Linked DNA regions of Homo sapiens: region 1 is linked to region 2. The links come from fine-mapping of genetic effects on gene expression. A gene starts in region 2. The other region holds a variant in brackets. All regions are shown on one strand. Distances are between the middles of the regions. Region 1 has its middle 26 kb from the start of ITCH. Region 2 holds the start of ITCH (itchy E3 ubiquitin protein ligase).

Region 1 (9,893 bases), 26 kb after region 2:
TGGTGCACGCCTGTAATCCCAGGTACACGGCAGGCTAAGGCAGGAGTATCACTTGAACCCAGGAGGCGGAGGTTGCAGTGGGCCGAGATCGTGCCATTCATTGCACTCCAGCCTGGGCAAGAAGAGCGATACTCCATCTCAAAAAAAGAAAAAAAAAGAAAGAAAAAAAAACAAGAACAACTATTGCTACTTGCAAAAACAGGAGAATTACAGAAACATAATGATAGTGAAAGAAGCCAGACCAAAAAAATGCATACCATAAAAAATATACTTTACTATTTTATTTATTTATTTATTTTGAAACAGGATCTCTCTTTGTCACCCAAGCTGGAGTGCAGTGTGTGATCATAGCTCACTGCACCCTTGCACTCTTGGCTTTAAGTGATCCTCCCACATCAGCCCACCCCAAGTAGCTGGGACTACAGGCGTGAGCCACCACATCTGGCTAATTTTTTAAAAAGTTTTTGTAGAGACAAGGTCTTGCTGTGTTGCCCAGGCTGGTGTTGAACTCCTGAGCTCAAGTGATCCTTCCGCCTTGTACTAAAATATACCCTACGTTGCTGGGATCACAGGCATGAGCCACTGTGCCAGGCCTACTTTGTTTAAATGTTTTAAGAACAGGCAAAACAGGCCAGGTGCGGTGGCTCACACCTGTAATCCCAACACTTTGGGAGGCAGAGGTGGGCGGATCACCTGAGGTCAGGAGTTCAAGACCAGCCTGACCAACATGGCAAAACGTCATCTCTACTAAGAATACAAAATTAGCTGGGCGTAGTGGCACAAGCCTGTAATCCCAGCTACTTGGGAGGATGAAGCAGGAGAATCACCGAATCACTTGAACCCAGGAGGCAGAGGTTGCAGCGAGGCGAGATTGTACATTGCACTCCAACCTGGGTGACAGAGTGAGACTCCATCTCAAAAAAAAAAAAAAAAAGAACAAAAGAACAGGCAAAACAAACCTAGGGTGACAGAGGTAAGAATACTGGTAACTCTCAAGTGTCAGGAATTGGCTGGGAGAGATCACAAGAGAGGCTTCTAGGGGATGGGAAATGTTTCTTTGTTTGTTTGCTTTTTGAGATGGAGTTTTGCTCTTGTTGCCCAGGCTGGAGTGCAATGGCGCGATCTCAGCTCACTGCAACCTCCGCCTCCCGGATTCAAGCAATTCTCCTGCCTCAGCCTTCTGAGTAGCTGGGATTACAGGCATGTACCAACACGCCTGGCTAATTTTTTGTATTTTTAAAAGAGACAGGATTTCACTGGGTTAGCCAGGATAGTCTCAATCTCCCGACCTCAGGTGATCTGCCCGCCTCGGCCTCCCAAAGTGTTGGCGTTACAGGAGTGAGCCACTGCACCTGGCGGGAAATGTTTATATGTTGATTTGGTTACACAAAAATCTATACACACACATAAATTATTTGAATTGTACACTTAATATTTGCTCAGTTTATTATATGTATATTATATTTCAACAGAAAATTAAAAATAATGTGCAACAGGGAATGATGAGCATAAGGTTCAGGAGGATGGTTACTAGGGTTGGGAAAGAGGTTGGGTGGGGAGGGAGGTATATAGTCAGATGTAGGTTATTGTTAAGGTTCTACATTTTATTTTGGGATGGTGGCTTCACAAGTGACTGTCATTACTTTAAAAAACTAATTAAATAAAAAATTATTTCAAAATAATACAAATGGTACACATACTGATAGAGTTGTTATGCAGTGTGTCAATCAAGATTCTTAGTTGCAAACAAAACAAACCAACTCACTTCAGTTTAAACAGGAAAGAGTTATTACAGGATGTTGGGTGGCTCACAGAATCTCCATGAGGGGCAAAGCCATAGTATTGGGAGCTATGCATAGGTAGGAACAACTCCTAAAATCACCCTGGGGAGTCAGGCCAGAGGAGATGCCAGGATGCAAGGCAGAGACACTACAGCTTGTTCTGCCAACCCTGAGTTCTTTCTTCCTTTTTTTTTTTTCTTTGAAACGGAGTCTCGCTCTGTAGCCCAGGGTGGAGTGCAGTGGTGTGGATCACTCAAGCCCAGGAGGTCGAGGTTGCAGTGAGCCATGATCACGCTACTGCACTCCAGCCTAGGTGACAGAGTAAGACCACTTCTCAAAAATAAATAAATAGGCCGGGCGCGGTGGCTCACGCCTGTAATCCCAGCACTTTGGGAGGCTGAGGTGGGCAGATCATGAGGTCAGGAGATCGAGACCAGCCTGGCTAACACGGTGAAACCCCGTCTCTACTAAAAATTAGCCGGGCGTGGTGGCGGGCGCCTGTAGTCTCAGCTACTCTGGAGGCTGAGGCAGGAGAATGGCGCGAACTCTGGAGGCGGAGGTTGCAGTGAGCCGAGATCGCGCCATTGCACTCCAGCCTGGGCGACAGAGTGAGATTCTATCTCAAAAAGTAATAATAATAAATAATAAATAAATAAATAGGAATAAAAATAATTTATCTTAAGCTGGCCTTGGTCATAAGAAGGAGGCATTCAGTCAGGCACATATGCTAGTTACTGCTGAACCCCTGATGAAAGAGATAAAATCTGGTTAAAGTTCCCTGATTAAGCCAGGTGCTGTGGCTCACGCCTGTAATCCCAGCACTTTGGGAGGCCAAGGCGGGCGGATCACCTGAAGTCGGGAGTTCGAGACTAGTCTGACCAACATGGAGAAACCCCATCTCTACTAAAAATACAAAATTAGCCGGGCATGGTGGCACATGCCTGTAATCCCAGCTACTCCGGAGGCTGAGGCAGGAGAATTGCTTGAACCTGGGAGGCGGAGGCTGCGGTGAGCTAAGATCCCACCATTGCACTCCAGCCTGGGCAACAAGAGCAAAACTCTGTCTCAAAAAAAAAAAAAAAAAAAGTTCCCTGATTAAAAAACAAAGCTGCCAGGAGTGGTGGCTCATGCCTGTAATCCCAGCACTTTGGGAGGTCAAGGCGGGTGGATCACCTGAGATCAGAAGTTCGAGACCAGCCTGGCCAACGTGGCAAAACCCCGTCTCTACAAAAAATACAAAAATTAGCAGGATGCGGTGGCGCAAGCCTGTATTCCCAGCTACTCAGTATGCTGAGGCACGAGAATCGCTTGAACCTGGGAGGTGGAGGTTACAGTGAGCTGTGATCGTGCCACTGCACTACATACAGCCTGGGTGATAGAGGGAGACTTTGTCTCAAAAAAAAAAACCAAAACAAACAAACAAACAAAAAAAACAGAGGCCTGGCCTGGTGGTTCATGCCTGTAATCTCAGCAGTTTGGGAGGCTGAGGTGGGTGGATCACTTGAGGTCAGGAGTTCAAGACCAGCTTGGCCAAAATGGTAAAACCCTGTCTCTACTAAAAATACAAAAATTAGCCAGGCATGGTGGCGGGCGCCTGTAATCCCAGCTACTCAGGAGGCTGAGGCAGAAGAATTGCTTGAACCCGGGAGGTGGCGGTTGCAGTGAGCCAAGATCACACCACTGCACTTCAGCCTGTGCAACAGAGCGAGTCTCCATCTTGAAAACAAAAACAAAAACCACCAAAGTTGGTGTCAAGCCCAGCACAGGGCAGAGCCTGCATGTGAGAGCTAAGTGGCTTC[C/T]GCTGTGGGGAGAAGCTTCCTGGGGCAGGGCAGGGCGTTGAGCAGCACCTGAGAGTCCGGAGGCATTGACAATTTATTATTTCCATCCAATAAAGCATTCATACCTTGCTGTCTTGCTTCATTTTCTTCCCCCAACAACCCGGAAGCAAATATTCGCTATTTCTGCTTGGCAGACGAGGAGATGAGGCTCAAGGGGTTGAGTAACTTGACAAAGGACAAATCGGTAGCAGAGCTAAAATTTTTGTTTAGGTCTTTTTTTTTGAGATAGGGTCTCACTCTGTTACCCATGCTAGGGAACAGCGGCGCCATCACAGCTCACTGCAATCTCCACCTCCCGGGGTCACGTGATCCTCTAACCTCAGCCTCCTGAGTAACTGGGACTACAGGCTAGTGTATCACAGGACCAGCTAATTTTTGGTAGAGACGGGGTTTCCCCATGTTGGCCAGGCTGGTCTTGAACTCCTGACCTCAAGTGATCTGCCTGCCTCATCCTCCCCAAAGCACTGGGATTACAGGTGTGAGCCACTGTGCCCAACCCAGCAGAGCTAAAATTTAAACCTGCTTCTCAGAGATAAATTAAGGAGCAAAGGAAGCCTTTGTTGGATAGCTTCCAGAGGTTGGGAATGTCCCTGGAAAGTGCTGAGATGGAGTCAATTCTGTTGACTGGGGACTCCTAGTAGATAAGCAAGAAATTAGTTGATAAGTTCTAGTGGTGGGGATGATGAAGACTGAGCACCCGAAGGGGAATGCTTGCAGAGTGATAAATAGTCCCTACACTGCCTTCTAGGGAGATCAAGTTTCCCCATGGGGCTTCTGTCTTAGGAGGTTCTATGAAAATGTAGTCAGAGCTGAATTGCCAGGAAAATGAAGAGACTGGGGGTTGCTACTTCATCTTTCCTTTTGGCCCTTCCTCATATAGCTCTCAACCTCTCCTCTTGATTAGTGGAGACCATATAATAATACAGCAATATTGGTTCCTATCTGCTGTGCATTTGCTATGAGCCAGACTCTTCTTATTTTTATTTATTGGTTTATTTATTTTTTGAGACAGGGTCTTGTTCTGTGGCCTAGGCTGGAGTGCAGTGGTACAATCACAGCTCACTGTAGCCTCAACTTCCCAGGCTCAAGCGATCCTCCCACCTCAGCCTCCCGAGTAGCTGGGACTATAGGCGCACATCACCATGCCCAGCTAATTTTTGTATTTTTTGTAGAGACGGGGTTTCACTGTGTTGCCCAGGCTGGTCTCAAACTCCTGGGCTGAAGCGATCCACCTACCTTGGGCTACCAAAGTGTTGGGATTACAGGCGTGAGCCACTGCACCCAGCTTAGCCAGATTCTTTTCATGTATCATATGGAATCCTCATGATTATATAAAGCAAGTCCTCCCATCATCCTCATTTTAAGGAAAAGGAGGCAAAGTGTGATTGTATTCATTGTCTGTGGCTGTGTCAGGAATTACCCCAAAACTACAAAGCTTAAAACAGCAATAAACATTTATTACCTCAGGTATTTTCTATAGGCAAGGAATTCAGGAGCTGATTAGTTGAGTGATTCTCACCAGAAACATCTCATAAGTTTCAAGATGTTGACCAGGGCTGCAGTCATCTGGAAGCTGGACTGGGGTTGGAGGATACAGTTTCAAGCGGGCCCGTGCACACGGCTGGCAAAGCAGTTGGCTGTTGGCAAGCAGTCTCAGTTACTTCTTGCTGTGTGTGTCCCTGCATTGGGCTGTGCTTATAACATAGCATATAACATTGAGTGTGCTTATAACATAGCAGCTAAGTTCCCTTAGGGCAAGTGATCCAAGAGAGCAAGATGGAAGCTGCAGTCTCTTTGTTTTTTTGTTTGGTTTTGTTTTTGAGACGGAGTCTCGCTCTGTTGCCCAGGCTGGAGTGCAATGGTGCGATCTTGGCTCACTACAATCTCTGCCTCCCAAGTTCAAGCAATTCTCCTGCCTCAGCCTCCTGAGTAGCTGGGGTTACAGGCACGTGCCACCACCCCCGGTTAATTTTTGTATTTTTAATAGAGACGGGGTTTCACCATGTTGGTCAGGGTGGTCTCGAACTCCTGACCTCGTGATCTGCCTGCCTTGGCCTCCCAAAGTGCTGGGATTGCAGGCATGAGCCACTGCGCCTGGCTGTTTTTATTTTTTGAGACAGGTTCTTGCTCTATTGCCCAGGCTGGAATGCAGTGGTGTCATCTCAGCTCACTGCAACCTTGACTTCCTGGGCTCAGGCGATTCTCTCACCTCAGCCTCCCAAGTAGGTTGAGACCACAGGTGCTAATTTTCTTTTCTCTTTTTAGTAGAGGTGAGGTCTCGTTTTATGGCTATGTTGCCTGGGCTGATCTCAATCTCCTGGACTCCAGTGATCCTCCCACCTTAGCCTCCCAAAGTGCTAGGATTACAGGCATGAGACACTGTGCCCAGCCTTGCATTGTCTTTTCTGACCTGGCCTCAGAAGTCACACCTGTTTCTGCAGTAGCCTGGTGGTTATGTAGGAAGAGAGAATCATTGAGGGCCATCTTGGAGGCCACTACCACGATGATAAGTAATTTGCCCAAGGTCACATACATGGGAAGCGTTAGAGGTGAGCTTTGAAGCCAGGAAGTTACTATGTCACAGTAAATATTAGTTTGAAGGAGTAGGGGCAGGCATGTACCCACAGGTCTCCTCTATCCTGGAGGCATTCATGCTTGAGATCCTGAGCTTCTCATTCCAATGGGCAGGTGAGTCAGACACTATCTGATGTGTCAGACAGACATTTTGTACAAGCAACATAATTTGACATTTTCTTTCTTTTTTTTTTTTGAGTAGGAGTCTCTCTCTGTCACGCAGGCTGGAGCGCAGTGGCGTGATCTTAGCTCACTGCAACCTCTGCCTCCCAGGTTCAAGCGATTCTCCTGCCTCAGCCTCCCGAGTAGCTGGGATTATAGGCATGTACCACCACGCTGGCTAATTTTTGTATTTTTAGTAGAGACAGGGTTTCACTATGTTGGCCAGCCTGGTCTCAAACTCCTGACCTCAAATGATCCACCCACCTTGGCCTCCCAAAGTGCTGGGATTATAGGCGTGAGCCACTGCGCCCAGCCAATTTGGGCATTTTTAAAAGACAGAAACAAACAAACAACAAAAAACAGCAAAAGATCGCACAGACTTGCACTTAATGGTAGACATGCTGAATTAAAGGGAACCTGACTGTGGCTCCAGCTTTGCCACTGACTTACTGAAGGACCTTAGGCAAGCTCCAGCCCCCTTTGGGGCCTTTGTTTTCCCATCTGTACAATGGAGCAGTTTGATTCCATGGACACTGAGGTCCTCTGGCTGGGTGATTCTGGGATTCTACGTAGAGAGCTGTTCACGGAGAAAGCCCAGGGAGTTCTTTCTCCACTTTCCCTGGCTTCATCTGTCCTTTGCTGAAGGGGAGCGGACCCCTCAGGTGCAAGGGGCACTCTTCTGGACCCAGGCCAGACCCAGCCAGGCTGTTCAGCCTTGTTTCACCCGAAGCTGGCTGGCACCATTGTTCCCCCATAAAGCTGGGCCCCTTTCCAGCTGCTACTGAACTCAGGGCAGGGGAGAGGCTCAAAGGACTCAGTTGTGTGGATTTCCTCCCTCCCCCAGGGCAGGCCTGGGTCACCCAACAGGCTGATTCAGCCCTTACAGAGGAACAAAAGAGATGAGATATGGTTTAGGGACAGAATTTGACATTTACCATTTTCCCTCATAAAACTTAAAAGTAATCATCTTGGGGAAATCCCCTTATGTTTATTTATTTTACAGTTCAGGGACATTTTAAAAAATTGGGGCAAGGGCATTGTTTCCAATTTCAGTGCTTAGGGACTCATATTTTAATGATTCTATGATGCACATTTGTTTACCTTTTAATATCTTTGAAATTGGAATGCATGTAACAGTTAATGACATAATAAGCTAATTGCAGCATTTAAAAAGTACATAGGCCGGGGGTGGTGGCTCATGCCTGTGCCACCAGCACTTTGGGAGGCCGAGGTGGGCAGATCACGAGGTCAGGAGTTTGAGACCTGCCTGGCCAACATGGTGAAACCCCGTCTCTACTAAAAATACAAAAATTAGCTGGGCATGGTAGCGCATGCCTGTAGTCCCAGCTACTCTACTCGGGAGGCTGAGGCAGGAGAATCACTTGAGCTCGGGAGGCAGAGGTTGCAGTGAGCCGAGATCGCGCCACCACTGCACTCCAGCCTGGCAACAGAGCAAGACTCTGTCTCAAAAAAAAAGAACATAAAATAGTGGTGTATATTACAATGATGGATCTTAAATTTGATGAACTAGGATAATTAGCTTCTGTTCTTGGATTCTAGGCCTACTGGATCTTGGACCCCCCTCAACCCCACAACCCAGTCTTTTCCACCACCCACAGGCTTGTCTTTATCCTAGCGTCATTGTCTTAACCCTCTGTCTCCAATATAATCCTTTGCACTTTTTTTTTTAACTCAAAAATCTTTTTACAGAAACTCTTAGAAGGGAGGAGAGGCCCACCCAGGAGCTGGGGGCACTGCTCAGCCACAGCCACGTTCCGTGTGGGCTGGGTATGGTGGCTGCTTCCCTGCAGAGGGCATGATTTCCTTATTACTTTTGACCTTTACACTTTTTTTTTAACAGCTTTTCCTCCGCATAAGACCCTGAAGGAATGGTGAGGGGAGACTCTCCCCAACTTCTGATCAAGACAGAGATTATTATTATTATTATTATTTTTGAGATAGAGTTTCACTCTTTTTGCCCAGGCTGGAGTGCAATGGTGCGATCTCGGCTCACTGAAACCTCTGCCTCCTGGGTTCAAGCGATTCTCCTGCCTCAGCCTCCTGAGTAGCTAGGATTACAGGCATGTGCCACCACCTCGGCTAATTTTGTATTGTTAGTAGAGACGGGGTTTCTCCATGTTGGTCAGGCTGGTCTTGAACTCCTGACCTCAGGTGATCCACCCACCTCGGCCTCCCAAAGTGCTGGGATTACAGGTGTGAGCCACCATGCCCAGCAAGACAGAGATTATTTAGTACCATTAGTACCATGAAAAGTCACAGAAGAATGAAAACAAATTTAATTCCAACATTGTAGCAGGCACTACTATTCATGTTTTATCATGTTTTATGTATGTTAACTCACTTAATCCTTACAACCATTTATCAAGTAACTACGAATGTGTCCCTATTTTACAGATGGGGAGCCTGAGGCACAGAAGTGCTACAGTCTGCTCAAGATCACATAGGTAGTTAGTGACCAGAGTCCAGGGGAAAAAAAGCAACATTTCTCTTTTGGCTTTTCTGCCAATTCTATTTTTTTTTTTTTTTTTTTAGACTGGGTCTTGCTCTGTCACCCATGCTGGAGTACAGTAGCACAATCTCAGCTCACTGAAGCCTCAACTTAACCAGGGCTCAAGCAATCCTCCCATCTCAGCCTCCCAAGCCTCCCAAGTAGCTGGGACTACAGGTGTGTGCCACACCTGGCTAATTTTGTTTATTTTTTTTGCAGAGACGAGGTTTCACTATGTTGCCCAGGGGGGTCTCAAACTCCTGGGTTCAAGCAATCCTCCTGCCTCAGTCTCCCAGAGTGCTAGGATTACAGGTGTGAACCACCACACTCAGCCCCTTTCTGCCAATCCTTGCCCCAGAGATAACAGGTCATAAATGTGGTTTATATCCTTCTGATGCAGGATATTTCTCAGCCTTTTCTTTTTTTGGACTCACGGCAGGGGCGCCCTGTCTACTTGGCCTGCCGCACTCACCCCCTTACAGGAGGGAGCACGTGAGTGAGTGCGGGATCTGGCCAGCCACTCCAAGCACTGACACAGGAGCAAGCTCCATGCGGGCCCGTGGACACACCAGGTGTATTGCCTCAAGGGGGACATGGCGGCATCCAGGCAAGGATGCCTGCGACCCTGAAGCCCCAGAGAGGGTATTAGTGTGCTAATTAGCTCTTTTAGTTCCACTGTCCACAGCCCCCTGGATGGTCGGTGTGTTAGCAGCTCAGTCGGCCCCTGGCCCTGTCACGTGGGGTAGCTGCCGTCCTAGAAGGGCAGAGGGCCAGTGTGACAGCCTTTCAGGGTACCCGCACTTGGTGGGTCCCGAGCTCTTGTCCAGTGTTCAAGAAGAATGAGGTCACGTGGAGGACTGAAGGGTGATGAGGGCAGATAATTTTACGGAGTGACGGAACAGCTCACAGCGGAGAGGGGATGTGGGGGTGGGGGTGGTTTCTCTCTCCTTGTGGCTGGGTCTGGGGCTTTTTATGGCCTCAGAATGGGGACTACATGCTGATTGTGAGTATGCAAAAAAGGTTAAAGCA
Region 2 (9,893 bases):
AAGAAAGTGGCAAAACAACAAAACAGATGACTATTTCCTATCAGTACTAACACGAATTTTTTTTTTTTTTTCTTTTGAGACAGAGTCTCATTCTTGTTGCCAGGCTGGAGTGCAGTGGCACAATCTCAGCTCACTGCAACCTCCGCCTCCCAGGTTCAAGTGGTTCTCCTGCCTCAGCCTCCCAAGTAGCTGGTACTACAGGTGCATGCCACCACACCCAGCTAATTTTTTGTATTTTAGTAGAGATGGGGGTTTCACCACGTTGGCCAGGATGATCTCGATCTCCTGACCTCGTGATCTGCCCGCTTCAGCCTCCCAAAATGCTGGGATTACAGGCATGAGCCACCGCGCCCGGCCCTAACACAAATTTCTTAAGACAGAATGAATATAACAAAACTTACTTCTAGGCCAAAATTCCTTGTTAAACTCTTGCCTAAACAGTCAAGACGCATAGGCTAAAAATCTCCCTTTTCTTTTTCTAGTCTAATACCAGAAGCTCTTCAGTAGTGCACATTGATCTTTGTAAACCAGAGAATACCAGTCCCAGAGTTGCAAAACCCAGTTCTAGTTCTAGTTCTTACTCTTAACTAGTTTCAGGTAAATTATTTAACCTTTAAAACAAACAAACAACAACAAAACAGAAAACTAAGAGATTGGACTTATCTAAGAATAGCATATATTTGGCACATGTCTACTACCTACTAGGTAACTGTCCACAGGAGACATCATTGATCAACCATAATACAATTTCTCAGAGCACCTACAACCAGAATCCTTCCAAACACAGTGCTTCTGGCAGCTTCCAATTAGAGCTGGCCAATAAACCAAAATATATTTGCCATTATGGACTAGATAATCTCTGTAACTTCTCCCAACTCTAAAACTCAATGAGCAAGTTTCTACAGGCTGAGAGAAAAACACTCCCAACAAGCCTAGATCAATACTTTTTAGAGGCATAAATTTCAGTCCAAACTCCAAGTTCTAAATTAGCCAGGCTTGGTGGCATGCACCTCTAATTCCAGCTACTTGGGAGGCAGCTACTTGGGAGGCTGAGGCACACGAATCGCTTGAACCCGGGAGGTGGAGGTTGCAGTGAGCCGAGATCACATCACTGCACTCCAGCCTGCATGGCCGAGCAAGACTCCATCTCAAAAATAGTAACAATAACAAACTTCAAGTTCTCTTCCAAATTACACCTGACATAGTTCTTTCTAATTTCTCAAAGATGCTAATGAACAATTCACTCTCATACTATACATAACATATATAACCTGGCAATATTATTCAGACTTGCTAATGGGTTCTTTTGACAGAAAAGGAGCCCTTTACCCAGATTAGCTCTAAAAAAAAATCCTCATCTAGAAATATGGCAACAATATTGCACTAGTAAAAAGCTAAATCCAATCCTTTGATCATCCCCACAACCTCTCTCCAAGGTCAGGCTTTGTCATTTCTCAACTAGACTTCTGCAATAGCTAGTCCCTCATCCTTTCGCTCATCACCAGAGCAATCTTTCTTTTTTTGTTTTTTGATACCTATCTTTGTCCTGCAGTACACAGCAATTTTCTAAAACACATATGTACTCACATCATTTCCCTGTCGAAAAATCTGCATCTATTTCTTTTTTTTTTCCTTCCTTTTGGTAAAGACGGGATATCACCATGTTGCCCAGGCTGGTCTCAAACTCCTGAGCTCAAGCGATTCACCCGCCTCAGCCTCCCAAACTGTTGAGATTACAGGTGTGAGGCACTGAGCCCAGCCCTGTATCTATTTCTACCAACATAAAATTCCAAATTTTTAGCATTATACTTAAAATTTTTAGCCAGAGCACAGTAGCTTACACCTGTAATCCCAACACTTTAGGAGGCCAAGGTGGGAGGACCACTTGAACACAGGAGTTAAGACCAGACTGGGCAACGTAAAGAGAACCTTTCTCTACAAAAAAATTTTAAAAATTAGCCAGGCATGCTAATGCATGCCTGTTGTCCCAGCTACTCAGGGAGGCTGGGGTGGGAAGATCACTTGAGCTCTGGAGGTCCTGTCACTGCACTCCATCCTGCGTGACTGGGTGAGACCCAGTCTCAACAACAAAAAATCACTTTTCATATACTTGCTTCCTTTAACCTTTCTGACCTTGCGTTTCAAAATGCTCTCCTTCCCCATTCCACTCCACACTCCCTGAACCCTTTTTGTTCCATAATCCTCTGAATTTACACACAGCATTAAGGCATTCACTCAGCCTACCCTGTCCTTCTCTTTCCCCGCCCTTTTCACACTCCTACTCTTCATGTAAGACCCAATGTGGGTTCAGGGGCAAATCTTGCCTCTTCTAACCAATCCTCCACCCAGCCACACACACAGAATTGGCCACTTCCTCTTTCGTCTCAAAGCTTTTTGACCTTTCCTTGGTAAGTCTACAGTACCATTTGCCCTCAGTGGTTCCCAAGACCATCAGAATTACCTAAGGCATGTGTTAAAAATAAATTGGTTGAAGCCAACCCAGACCTACTAAATCCATCTCAGAAGGTAAGACCCTGGAATTTCTAAGCTCTCCTAATTATTCTAATGGTCAAATTTGGGGACTACTGGTTTGTCTGCCTCTCCCAATAAGTGAAAAGATGTATTTTTTAGGGCCAGGAGTGGCGGCTCATGCCTGTAAACCCAGCACTTTGGGAGGCCAAGGCAGGTGGATCACGAGGTCAGGAGTTCGAGAGCAGCCTAGCCAATATGGTGAAAACCCATCTCTACTAAAAAATACAAAAAAATTACCGGGAGTGGTGGCACGCGCCTGTAGTCCCAGCTACTACGGAGGCTGAGGCAGAAGAATTGCTGGAACCCGGGAGGCGGAGGTTACAGTAAGCCGAGATCACACCACTGTACTCCAGCCTGGGTGACAAAGTTAGATTCCGTCTCAAACAAACGAAAAAGATGTATTTTTTTCTAAAGAATGTAGAAATGTTTGATTCTAGAATACACTGAAGAAGTAGTCTGTACTCATTTTTTTAATTTCATATGATATCCTTGGTGACTTGACCTGTATGCTGAATGTAATGGAATTCCTTTTGGACTCACAAAACTTAAATTCACAGTTCAAAGAAGCAGTAGAATTTCCACCTTCATTTCTAAATTTTTTTTTTTATTTTTTGAGACAGGGTCTCACTCTGTCACCCAGGCTGGAATGCAGTGGCAACGGTAACAGCTCACCGCAGCCTCGACCCCCCGGAATCAGGTGATTCCCCCACCTCAGCCTCCTGAGTATCTGGGACCACAGGCGCCTGCCACCACACCCGGCAAATCTTTGTATTTTTTGTAGAGACGGGGTTTCACGATGTTGCCCAGGCTGATCTCCAATTCCTGGGCTCACGTAATCCGCCCACCTCGGCCTCCCAAATTGCTGGGATTACAGGCGTGAGCCACCACACCCATCCCATTGCTTTTTTTTTTTTTTTTTTTTTGAGGCGGAGTCTCGCTCTGTCGCCCAGGCTGGAGTGCAGCAGCGAGATCTCGGCTCACTGCAGCCTCCACCTCCCGGGTTCAAGCCATTCTCCTGCCTCAGCCTCCCTAGTAGCTGGGACTACAGGCGCGCGCCACCACGCCCAGGATTTTTTTTTTTTTTTTTTTGTATTTTTAGTAGAGACGGGGTTTCACCATGTTGGTCAGGATGGTCTCGAACTCCTGACCTCATGATCTGCCCGCCTCGGCCTCCCAAAGTGCTAGGATTACAGGCGTGAGCCACACACAGCACCCGGCCCATTTCTTAATTTTAAAAATAAATCGTAGCTTAAATAAACCTGTAAATACACATAGCAAGCTCTCAGCAGATCTGCCATGAGAACTTCACCTCAACTGATAAACCATTCCTTAGCCGATTTTGAGAATGGAAATACACTGCCTTTACATACTTCCTGAAGATCGAATTCTATCAGGAAAAGATGCAGGAGAACCCACCTAAGTGGGTGGCTGGCTCCAGGGTCTTACTAATTTTCAAGGCAAAAATCCCACAATTCCCCATCCCCCACTCCAAACCAAGTATACTGTAGCTGTGGAAGAATGGCAGAAAATGTAATAAGATTAGGATACGAATACAACCAAGAAAACAAGGTTGCGTTGTTATTGGGGATAATGAATTCCTGGCCCTTTACAAGTTCACCTGGTTACATGTCCAACTAACTTTAGGCCCAGCGTCTACTTCGGGCGCACAAATTCTGCGATTCTCTTTTCTGTCGCGGACGGGAACTGTCTTGGAAAACTTGAGTTCTCCACTTAAAAGTCATGTCATCATGCTTCGACCCTTAGAATACGTTCAACGGCTACTTTTTTCTTTTCTCTGCTAAAGAAAAGGGCACTCTCCGGAGGAAGGGCAGTGACAGCTCCACGTCTGCAAAAGTCGGCGCCGCCACGACGGTGGCGGACGTCGGGGAGGGCGCCGGAGCCGGGACCACCACGCCGGGGGGACAATGGAAGGAGGAGGCGAGTGGGAGAGAGAAGGGGAGGCAGCCGCTGTGCTGGGCCCTTCTAGCGACTGGGGGCTCGGAAAAGTCTCGAGAAGGCCAGCTGGGTGGCGGGGGACCCGGCCGCCGCCCCTCACAGGGCCACGTCGCCCGCGCCGGCCCCGCCGCCGGGCCCCGCGCGTAGGCCGAACCGCTGGAGAGTGGCCCCAGGCGGGGCTGAGGGGCGAGGGGCCGGACGGTACCCACGCCCGTCGTGGCCCAGCCCTTTCACAACTTGGAGCCCGCGAGGCGAAGGCCTCCGGAAGCCTGTGCCAGACACTGATCCCTCCGAACGTCCAGACAGCCCACCCCCACCGCCCGGCCCGGGCCAGTAGCCCGAGCTCCCCGCGCCCCCGACAGACACCGGCTCTGGAAGAAGGAGCAGCCGCGGCTCTGGGGTCCCGAACCGCGCGTCCCACTCCTCTACCCTTGTTCTCCCCGAACATTCTCATCCGGACTCCCTCCCTCTCCCGAGAACTGCCCCGAGTTCGCCCACGGGGGTTTACCGGGACTCGGGGCGGCGGCGACTCCTCAGTCCCTAGACTAAGATGGCAGCCGGTCCCGAGCCCCGACCACAGCTACTAGAGCGAGTTAGCAGCTAAAGCGCAGGCGCCTGAGCGCGGAAGTGGTCTAGACTACAAGCCCCAGCAGGCCTTGCGCGCCAGCCGTCCGGCCCGCCCCTGGCTTGAAGAGCTGGCTGCGGTGGTAAATCAGTTAAATCCCAGTTTTCCTCAGCTCCAGGTGAGATGGGCGCGAGCGGCTCCCAGCACCTCCAGGCTTTTTTTTTTTTTTAACACCCCGCCCACCAGAGCCTATAAGGACTGTGATTCTCAAACTATGGTGTGCATCAGAATCACCTAGAGAGCTTATTAAAACTTACACTGCTGACCCCCACCCCCAGAGTTTCTGATCAGAAGATCTGGCATAGGAGGATAGGGTCTGATAATTTGCATGTCCAACAAGCTGTCTAGTGATACTGCTAGTGAGTGAAATCATAATTTGAGAACCAATGGGCTATATAGCTTAGTTTATAACTTAGTTGTTCTTTTTTCTTTTTCTTTTCCTTTTCTTTTTTTTTCTTCTTTTTGAGATAAGGTCTCACCCTTCACCCAGGCTGGAGTGCAGTGGTGCAGTCATAGCTCACTACAGCCTCACACTCCTGGGCTCAAGCGAGCCTCCCACCTGGGCTTCCTGAGTAGCTGGGACAGCAGTTGAGCACCACCACACCCGACTAATTTTGTTCTATTCTTTGTAGAGATGGGGATGGGGTGGAGTGCGGATGGGATGGGGCGGGAATAGGGCCACGGTGTCGCCATGTTGCCCAGGCTGGTCTCCAGCTCCTGGGCTCAAGCGATACTCCCTCCTCGGGCCTCCCAATCGCTGAGATTACAGATGTGAGCCACTGCACCTGGCCTGGCTTAGCCTTTAACAATGTACATTAAAGGGCGTGGTTAAAAAGAAAATAAAAGAAAAAAAATGTACACTTGAGAGTTACACTGACCGGATTCAAATCCTCCCTTTTCTACCTTTTAACTGGGTGCCCTTAGGGATGATGACAACAGCTTAGTGGAGCCAACGTGGCCTGTCCGGTATTCTAAGAGCTGATACCAAGCTCCCTTTATTCTCACAACAAACCTATTACAGAAATACCATTATTATCCCCATTTTACAAATATATAAACTAAGTCACATACTTGATAAGAACCCAGGCAGTCTGGCGTGAAAGTCCGTTGTCTTAACCTTCTTCATGGATTGCTTGTGAGAAATAATAGGCTATGCAGGCAGAGACTCAGAGGTATGACTAAGTGCTCAATACTTAGTGACCTTTGCTATTACTGTTTAGCCTGTTTCCTCCTAATGAAAATAGTATTTTGCCATCTGGAAAGTCACATTTTTCAAAGTGACTTTTTTTTTTTTTTTTTTTTTGAGACAGAGTCTTGCTCTGTCACCCAACCTGGAGTGCAGCGGTGCAATCATAGCTCACTGCAGCCAACCTCCTGGGCTCAAGTGATCCTCTCACCTCAGCTTCCTGAGTAGCTGGGACTCCAGGCTCAAGCCACCACACTATCCTAATTGTTTTTATTTTTGTAGAGACGTGGACTCCCTGTGTTGCCCAGGCTGTTCTCAGACTCCTAGGCTTGGCTAGGGTCAGTGGCTTACACCTGTAATCCCAGGAGTTAGGGAGGCCAAGGCAGGCAAATCACTTGAGGTCAGGAGTTTGAGACCAGTCTGGCCAACATGGTGAAACCCCGTCTCTTTTTTTTTTTTTTTTTTTTTTTGAGACAGAGTATTGCTCTGTCGCCCAGGCTGGAGTGCAGTGGCGCAATCTTGGCTCACTGCAACCTCCGCTCGCCTCCTGGGTTCAAGTGATTCTCCTGTCTCAGCCTCCTAAGTAGCTGGGACTACAAGCGCATGCCATCACGCCTGGCTAATTTTTGTATTTTTAGTAGAGTTGGGTGAGCCACCACGCCTAGCCTTGTGAAACCCCTTCCCTACTAAAAACACAAAAATTAGCCAGGTGTGGTGGCGGGTGCCTGTAATCCCAGCTACTTGGGAGGCTGAAGCACGATAATTGATTGAACCCAGGAGGGGGAGGTTGCAGTGACCCAAGATCACGCCATTGCACTCCAGCCTGGGCGACTCAGCGAGACTCTGTCTCAAAAAACAAACAACAAAAGAAACATAAAGGCTGGGCGCAGTAGCTCACTCCTATAATCCCAGCACTTCGGGAGGCTGAGGCGGGTGGATCACCTGAGGTCAGGAGTTTGAGACCAGCCTGGCCAACATGGTGAAATCTTGTCTCTACTAAAAATGCAAAAATTTGTTGGGCATGGTTTGGGAGGCCGAGGCGGATGGATCAACTGAGGTCAGGAGTTCAAGACCAGCCTGGCTAACATGGTGAAACCCCATCTCTACTAAAAATGCAAAAATTAGACCGGGCACGGTGGCTCACGCCTATAATCCCAGCACTTTGGGAGGCCAAGGCGGGCGGATCACGAGATCAGGAGTTCAAGACCAGCCTGGCTATCATGGTGAAACCCTATCTCTACTAAAAATACAAAAATTAGCCGGGCGTGGTGGCGGGTGCCTGTAATCCCAGCTAGTCAGGAGGCTGAGGCAGAGAATTGCTTGGACCTGGGAGGCGGAGGTTGCAGTGAGCCAAGATCGTGCTACTGCACTCCATCCTGGGCCACAGAGCGAGAATCTGTCTCAAAAAAAAAAATGCAAAAATTAGTTGGGCATGGCACACCCCTGTAATCTCAGCTACTCGGGAGGCTGGGGTGGGAGAATTGCTTGAACTCAGGAGACGGAGACTGCAGTGAGCCAAGATCACGCCACTGCACTCCATCCTGAGTGACAGAGTGAAACCCCATCTAAAAAAAATAAAAAATCAAACTCCTAGGTTCAAGCCTTCAAGCCTCAAGCAAAGTACTTTCAAAACCACTTCATGTTTCCTGCAACATGCCTTAGGAAAGATTGCTAAAATACAGATTCCTGCGCCCCATCCTCATTCAGTTTCTCTAGTGCAGTGGTTTTCAAACCTCAGTACTTATCAGAATTGCCTGCAAAGTTAGTTAAACTGTAGGTTGCTGAGGCCACTCCTAGAGTTTCTGATTCAGTAGGTCTGGGGCAGGGCCTGAGAATTTGCTTTTTTTTTTTTTGGAGACTGAGTCTCACTCTGTCGCCCAGGCTTGAGTGCAGTGGCCCAACCTCCGCTCACTGCAACCTCTGCCTCCCGGGTTCAAGCGATTCTCCCGCCTCAGCCTCCCGAGCAGCTGGGATTACAGGTGCATGCCACCACGACTGACTAATTTTTGTATTTTTGTAGAGATGGGGTTTCACCATATTGGCCAGGCTGGTCTTGAACTCTTGAGCTTGTGATCTGCCCGCCTTAGCCTCCCAAAGTGCTGGGATTATAGGCGTGAGCCACCGCACCCGGCCAGTACAAGGTATTTTTATGACCATTATACAGAGAAGAAAACTGAGTGTGACAGAAATTAAATGGCTTGTTGAAGATCACTCAGCCAGGAACCAGGGATCTAACCCTAAGTCCTGTAGCTCCAGATTCTGTATTCACCTACAATTTTAAAAACTATGTAAGGTTAGGCAAAACTAGTCTATGGTGTTAGAAGTCAGGATACTGGTTACTCTTTGAGGGGAGGGTGTACCTGGAAGAAGGCACAAAGACACCTCTCAGGATAGGTAATAATGTTCTGTGCCCTGATCTGGGTGGTGTTACTGTTTCAGGAAAAGGGTCCTGATTCAGACCCCAAGAGAGGGTTCTTGGATCTCGTGCAGGAAAGAATTTGGGGCAAGTCCATACAATAAAGTGAAAACAAGTTATTTATTTATTATTCTTTTTCAGACAGAGTTTTGCTCTTGTCACCCTGGCTGGAGTGCAGTGGGGCAATCTCAGCTCACTGTAACCTCCGCCTCCTGGGTTCAAGTGATTCTCCTGCCTCATCCTCCTGAGTAACTGGGATTACAGGCGCACACCACCACACCCAGCTAATTTTTGTATTTTTAGCAGAGGTGGAGTTTCACCATGTTGGCTAGGCTGATCTTGAACTCCTGACCTCAGGTGATCCACCTGCCTCGGCCTCCCAAAGTGCTGGGATTACAGGCATGAGCCACGGCACCCAGCCGATAATGAGTTTATTAAGAAAGTAAAGGGGCCGGGCGTGGTGGCTAACGCTTGTAATCCCAGCACTTTGGGAGGCTGAGGGGGGTGGATCACGAGGTCAGGAGTTCAAGACCAGCCTGGCCAACATAGTGAAACCCCACCTCTACTAAAAATACAAAAATTAGCTGGGCGTGGTGACGTGCGCCTATAATACCAGCTACTCCAGAGGCTGAGGCAGGAGAATTGCTTGAACCAGGACCCAGGAGGCAAGGTGGAGGCTGCAGTGAGCCGACATCGTACCACTGCACTCCAGCCTGGGCAACAGAGCAAGACTCCATCTCAAAAAAAAAGAAAAAGAAAAAAGAAAGTAAAGGAGGCCGAGCGTGGTGGCTCACACCTGTAATCACACCACTTTGGGAGGCTGAGGCGGGTGGATCACTGGAAGTCAGGTGTTTGAGACCATCCTGGCCAACATGGTGAAACCCCATCTCTACTAAAAATACAAAAAAAGTTAGGCAGGCATGGTGACGCACGTCTGTAATCCCAGCTACTCAGGAGGCTGATGCAGGAGTATCGCTTGAACCCAGGAGGTAGAGGTTGCAGTGAGCGGAGATCCTGCCACTGCATTCCTGCCTGGGAGACAGAGCAAGACTCCCTCTAAAAAAAAAAAAAGAAAGTAAAGGAATAAAAGAATGGCTACCCCATAGTCAGAGCAATGGCTCGAGATGCTGGTCTAAGGATAGAGTTATTTCTTGATTATATGCTAAACAAGGGGTGGA

What was found.
Region 1: its variant is fine-mapped to the expression of ITCH in whole blood (INTERVAL, PIP above 0.99). The same link has a PIP of 0.9 or more in blood mononuclear cells.

What each region holds. Positions count from the first base shown.
Region 1 is chr20:34,332,218-34,342,110 of GRCh38, reverse strand. No RefSeq gene overlaps it. Among named protein-coding and RNA genes, the nearest start is that of ITCH, 26 kb to the left of the region's middle. RefSeq lists enhancers at 3,642-3,691, 3,742-3,851. The variant C/T (reference allele first, on the strand shown) is at 3,581.
Region 2 is chr20:34,358,453-34,368,345 of GRCh38, reverse strand. ITCH (itchy E3 ubiquitin protein ligase) reads right to left here and starts at 5,073. Exons shown (of 25, transcript NM_031483.7): 1 at 4,997-5,073. RefSeq lists a silencer at 4,539-4,768.